2 separate regions of the Homo sapiens genome follow, and region 2 is linked to region 1. Evidence: fine-mapped expression QTL. A gene starts in region 1. The other region holds a variant in brackets. All regions are shown on one strand. Distances are from middle to middle.

Region 1 (2,910 bases):
AATATTTACGTACAGCTAAATAATGTGTTTGTTTTAAGCTAAGTATTATTACAACAGTCGAAGTAAAAAGTTTATAAAGTTACAGTAAGCTAAGGTTGATTTATTCTGAAGAAAAATATATTTTTATAAATTTAGTGTAGCCTAGGTGTACAGATTATAAAGTCTCCAGTAGTGTAATGTCTGAGGCCTTCACATTCAGTCACCGACTCAACCAGGGCAACTTCCAGCTCAGCAAGCTCCATTCATGGTAAGTGCCCTCCTCTACGGGTGCACCACTTATAACCTTGTGTACTATATATATATAATATACATACATATAATACATACATATATAATATACATATATACACACACATATTTATATATATATATAATTTTTTTTTTTTGAGACGGTCACACTCTTTCCCCAGGCTGGAGTGCAGTGGCAGAAACTCGGCTCACTGCAACCTCCTTCTCCAGGTTCAAGCAATTCTCCTGCCTCAGCCTCCCGAGTAGCTGGGATTACAGGCGTATACCACCACGCCCACCTAAATTTTTTGTATTTTTAGTAGAGACGGGGTTTCACCATGTTGGCCAGGCTGGTCTTGAACTCCTGACCGCAGGTGATCCGCCAGCCTGGGCTGGGATCACAGGCCTGAGCCACCGCGCCCGGCCCTGTGCTATATTTTTACTGTCCTTTTTCTGCTTAGACATGTTTAAGTACACAAACTCTCGACGCTGTGTCCCAACTGCCTACAGCATTCCGCACAATACCATGCTGTCCAGGTTTGAAGCCTAGGAGCCATACGCTACACCATATACAGCCTAGGTGTGTAGTAGCCTATGCCACCTAGGTTTGTGTAAGAGCCCTCTGATGTTCACACAATGATGAAATCGCCTAACGACCCATTTCTTAGAACGTATATCCGTAGGTAAGCGAGAAAACAAGGTGTGTAAGGCCAAATGTATGGGTCCCATGGCTGGGTAACTGACTGTAGGCTACTGCACGTGTCGGCTTCCCTTCCGGTTCACCACGTGGCTATGGCAGAGCTTAAACATCCCACAGAAGCGCTCACGCAGGGGGCCGGAAAGTTCCATAAGCGACCACTCGACTGTCCCCGCGGGCTTGTGGCCTCTAGAACTTTCTTGCAACTCGGAGCTCTATCCCTGCTCCGGGGTCCCTCCGCTCCTTTTCTTCTCGGCCCGTTTCCACTACCCTTGCTCCCCTAGTCGCATGGAGCTGTAACGGCGGCGTCCGGGCTGGCAGCAGCACAGACACTGCCACGTCCCACGCCACCGCGGGGTGGGCAGCACGGCAGATGTCTTTCGACGGCGACCCGGACCCCAGGGAGGTGAGAGGGCCGAGCCCCATCATGCCAAGTCACCGCGAGGGGCTCCCACTCTCGCGCCCTTGCCACGGAGCCAGGGCCGAGAGACAAGGCCGGCTTAAGGCCGGGCGGTGAAGAGGCCGACACGCCGGCGGGAACCAGAGGGAGGCGTGCGCGGGCCCCGATACCATCCCCCCACCCCCGTTCCCCGAGTCGCCCGGAGTTAGCACGGCCCGGAAGCCTGCAGCCCTTACCTTCCGCATCCGCCATGTTACCCTGCACCGCGTGCGTGCCGCCCGGTCCACAGCCGAGGGAACGACCGCAGACTCCCGCCGCCTTGGTCCCGTCAGGCCGCGCTGCTAGGACCCACCCACCCGCGCACTGCCCTGTGCGTGCCTTGCCGCGGGGCGGGAGGAGGCGGGGCCATCCCGGGGGCGGAATCCGAGGCGCCCGCTGGTCGTCTGCGCAATGCGATTTGCTGGCTCGGCCAGTACGGAGGGCGAGACCGCGCATGCGCTTCGAGCCTCAAGCAGCCTGGTTGGCCCAGGCTGGAAGCGCGAGTGCCGCCCGCCCCGACAGCCCGGAGTCTGTGGGCGTGGCCCCAGCTGTAGTTGCTTCACCTCCGGGTTTAGCTCCGCGCCTGCGCCTGGGCTCACGGCTGAACGCTCCGTAAACAGTACCTCTTTCTTTGCTTTCTCACACCGACCCTTTCAGGTTGCTGTTGGATCAGTCCTGATGCATAAGTGAACATGTTGAAGCTCGGAGAGGTTGAAAGGCCTTTGCTGCTTGCAGTTCCCATCCAGCTAGAGCAGATGGCCAATAGGAGTAGTGTGCGTGCCACATGTTGACTTTTAAATTTTCCAGCAGCAACATGAAAGAAGAGTAAAAAGAAAAAGGTGAAAATGATTTATAATGAATTTTTTTAACCCAGCGTATCCGAAATATTATCATTTCCACATATAGGCAAAACACAACAGTATGAATGGGGTATTTTACATTGGTTTTTTTTTTTTGTCCCCGCAAAGACTTTCCGGTGTGTGCGTTTATGCTCACAGCACACCTCAATTTGAACTCTACGACCGGGCTTCACGCCAAACAGCAGAGACAAAGCACTGGCACTAAATCTCATAGAAACAGGATGAGCCTGGGTATCATGATAGGCAGCAGGGCTGGAAGCTGGAACCAAACTGATTTCTCCCCAGGGATCTTTGGTGGTGTCTAATTGATCACAGTGTCCTGTAGTAAGCCATCATGATCTGTATAACCCCGGTAACTCTAGGTCTGGCTAAAGGCATTCTGCCTTGAATCACCACAATGGAAAATCATGGTGCCTCATCTAATTCCCAGATCTAGTCAGTCCACAGGCCAGAGCCCGTGAGGTGAGCCTGTAAAGGTGAGGCCAGGCACATGTAACGCTACAAGTGTGTACTTTCAGCCTGCCTCCTCCCTTCTCGTGGGACCCGTGGCCATTTACCAGGGGCTTGCACTAGCCCGTGTGAATCACTGGGGAAGTAGAATGCCACTTGGTCCAATGGTCAGAAGTGGAGTCAGCCCACGTCCCTTTCACTATCAGCCACCCTGTGGCTCTTTCCCCGGTTCTTGA
Region 2 (2,910 bases), 21 kb before region 1:
ATGGCAGAAAAATTCACAAAACAGTTCCAACTGATAAGACATCCAACACTGAGCCTCCCTCTGCCTGTGCAAACTTACCCCAGTGTAAAGATTACAACCATTGTGGGGTTGACACTGAATAGAAATATTAGAATATATTACATGTAGTAATACAAGTTATTGTTTTGTGAAGCAGTTGTTTTAGATATATATGTGGGGTGTGTGTATGTGTTTTGTTTATAGATGTATGTGCAATAATGGCTTGCAATGTACAGTGTATTTCTTAGAGTGAGGTAGGGTCATAAAGGTTTGAGACCTTTATGGTCTAGACCAAAGAAAGAGAGTTGTTTGTGGGTTGTGTCCAGAATGTGCTGACAGGTACTAGATGACACAGACTCAAGGAGCCAGGTCCCTGACTGAGGGCAGGGCACAGTGCAAGATGCACCAAACAGTGTATGGGGTGCTTTGCACACATTATCTCCCACTGTAATGGACACTCAGAGAGTGAAGGGGGTGCCATTAGAGACTGAGTGGCTGGGGGGGGTATGAGGGGAGGGGGAGGAAAGCTGACCCCTTGATTGTCTTTTCCTACCAGGCGAGTGGCAAGTATGGCTCAGTCAGCTCCTAGCGAAGCCCCGAGCTGCAGTCCCTTTGGGAAGAAGAAGAAGTACAAAGACAAATATCTGGCCAAGCACAGCTCGAGTAAGCTTTCTGAGCCTTCTTGCCCCAGGTTCCTGGCAGCATTCACGTGTTTCCCAGTCTCTGTAACCAGCAGAAAAGGGGAGGTGGTGCAGTGCGCAGCAGAAGGCGCATTCTACAGAAAGCATGTCATTTCTTCTGGTTTCTTTTTATTGAATCCATCTTCACAAGCTTGCTGCAGTCAGGCCAGTGGATGTAAAGGAGGACTAGTGGTGAGCCCACACCTGCTCATCACCCCACCCCTCACACAGAAGTAGATGTGGTGGGAGAGGGGAAGTGAGGCAAGAACACAGGCCAGAGGGAGAGGCCAGGGCCAGGTCATAGGGAGCTTCGTGCACCCTCCCTAGCGTTTTAAATTTTGCACTATAGACTGTGGAGCTGGTGAAGGGTTTTGAGCAGAGAATTCGCACGGTCAGCTTTCCATCTGCATTTCTCTTTTCTGAGACGTCACGTGCACACCACCAGCCAGGGAATGATCGTGGCAGTCTTGGGTTGTAGGCAGGTAAGGGGGTGGAGAGTCAGGATGACACCAGGTCTCTATCTTGAGCAGCTGGGTCAATAGCACCACCATCTTCTAAGATAAGGGACATTCAGGCAGAACCGAGATAGCATTGGCATTCTTCAGCTCTAAGTGCCAAGGGAACATCTGATACTGAAACTATGGAGAAGAGATGAGGACAGGAGACAAGAAAAGTTGGCTCAGAGAGATAGGGCAAGGAGGAAGAGAGGGTGCAAAAGTTAGATAAACTCCCTTGCTCAAAATTCCCTCACCACACTAAAAATACAGTCCAAAGTCCTTCCTCCACACCAACCTCCCTC[G/A]TCTCATCTCTAGTCACTTCCTCCCTGCTTGTTGAGATGTCGCGAGGCTGTTTCCCATTTCAGAGTGTGGACCACTGTTCTCCCTAGCTCTGGAAATGAACACTGCTTGGTTTTCTTTGTCTCTAGTTTTTGATCAGTTGGATGTTGTTTCCTACGAGGAAGTCGTTCGGCTCCCTGCATTCAAGAGGAAGACCCTGGTGCTGATCGGTATCTTCTCATTGCCCCATTTGCACATTTCTGTCTTTGTTTTCCTGCCTGCATCACGTGCCCACCCCCAAAAAAGGCAGTGAGGAAGAAAAGAACTGAGGTCTCTTGGGTTCTCCATATAGAGCAGGTGTAAGGAATTTTCTGAATCCTCACGTGCACCCCACCTGGGTCCACCTCACAAATGAAACTAAACCTTACAAGTTTCTCTACTATTTAGCAACGAATTATTTTTGGTTAGGTTTCATGCTGTCTGCTGGCAGTGATACGCTTTGTAAATCTCCCTTCCCCCAAGCAGTGACTCTGACCTGAAACAGAGTAAGTCCTTGCTTCAAACCCAGGTATGTAGGCTTTGCCTCTGGCGGACTGCTCACCTTCCTGTCTTTAGAGTTGACCCCAGCCCAGATGCAACCCCAACTCATGTTCACCTGTTGGCAGTTTTGAGTGCCGAGAGAGGAAAATCCGTATCTTATCCTCGCTCCTCTCCCCCCTTTCCAAAAGATGTTCTTCTCTCTCTACACAGGAGCCAGTGGGGTGGGTCGCAGCCACATTAAGAATGCCCTGCTCAGCCAGAATCCGGAGAAGTTTGTGTACCCTGTCCCATGTAAGTAGCTCTTAGGCACCTTGGAGGGGAGGTGACAGGCTGGTACCACTCGCCATCTGAAATACCATAGTGTTATTTTATTATTTTTTAAATTATTTTATTTTAAATGATTATTAAAACTAAACAAAATATGGAAAGATAAAAATTTGTGCCCACAATTCCTCCACCTAACAGAATAACTGTTTTCTTATTGTTATTCGTGCTGTTTGTCTACATAACAGAAGCTATAGTAAACATTTTGATACTGCCTTAAAAATTACTAAGTATTAAAGTTTATACATATAACTTTGTCATTTTACTTTTTAAACATTTTCTCATGTTCCTCTGCAATTTGCCTAATTCTCTTTGAGAACTATCCCACTCTTGATGTTCAGGCTGCCTCTCATTTTCATGGAATGTCTTCTAAATCAAAGCAGTGCCTAGGAAAGGCCCAAACGATCTCAACAGCAGTCCTAGATATGGAGAAGAGTAGCGCCAGTGATCAGGTGGAGAATTTGATAACTCTTCCATTCCCAGAAGTGATGCTGCATGGTATAGTTGTGTATGTTCCCAGAAAGAAATACGGTGATTCCTCACTTAATATTGTCAATAGGCTCTTCGAAGAC

Evidence for each region. PIP is the estimated chance that this variant, and not a neighbour inherited with it, causes the effect.
Region 2: its variant is fine-mapped to the expression of DKC1 in whole blood (TOPMed, PIP 0.91).

Annotation. Positions count from the first base shown.
Region 1 is chrX:154,761,633-154,764,542 of GRCh38, reverse strand. DKC1 (dyskerin pseudouridine synthase 1) reads right to left here and starts at 1,679. Exons shown (of 15, transcript NM_001363.5): 1 at 1,562-1,679. The coding sequence starts at 1,577. RefSeq lists enhancers at 1,149-1,248, 1,999-2,058 and a silencer at 1,599-1,898.
Region 2 is chrX:154,782,822-154,785,731 of GRCh38, reverse strand. MPP1 (MAGUK p55 scaffold protein 1) reads left to right here. Exons shown (of 12, transcript NM_002436.4): 7 at 575-681; 8 at 1,624-1,704; 9 at 2,225-2,305. Among named protein-coding and RNA genes, the nearest start is that of SNORA56, 9.3 kb to the right of the region's middle. The variant G/A (reference allele first, on the strand shown) is at 1,498.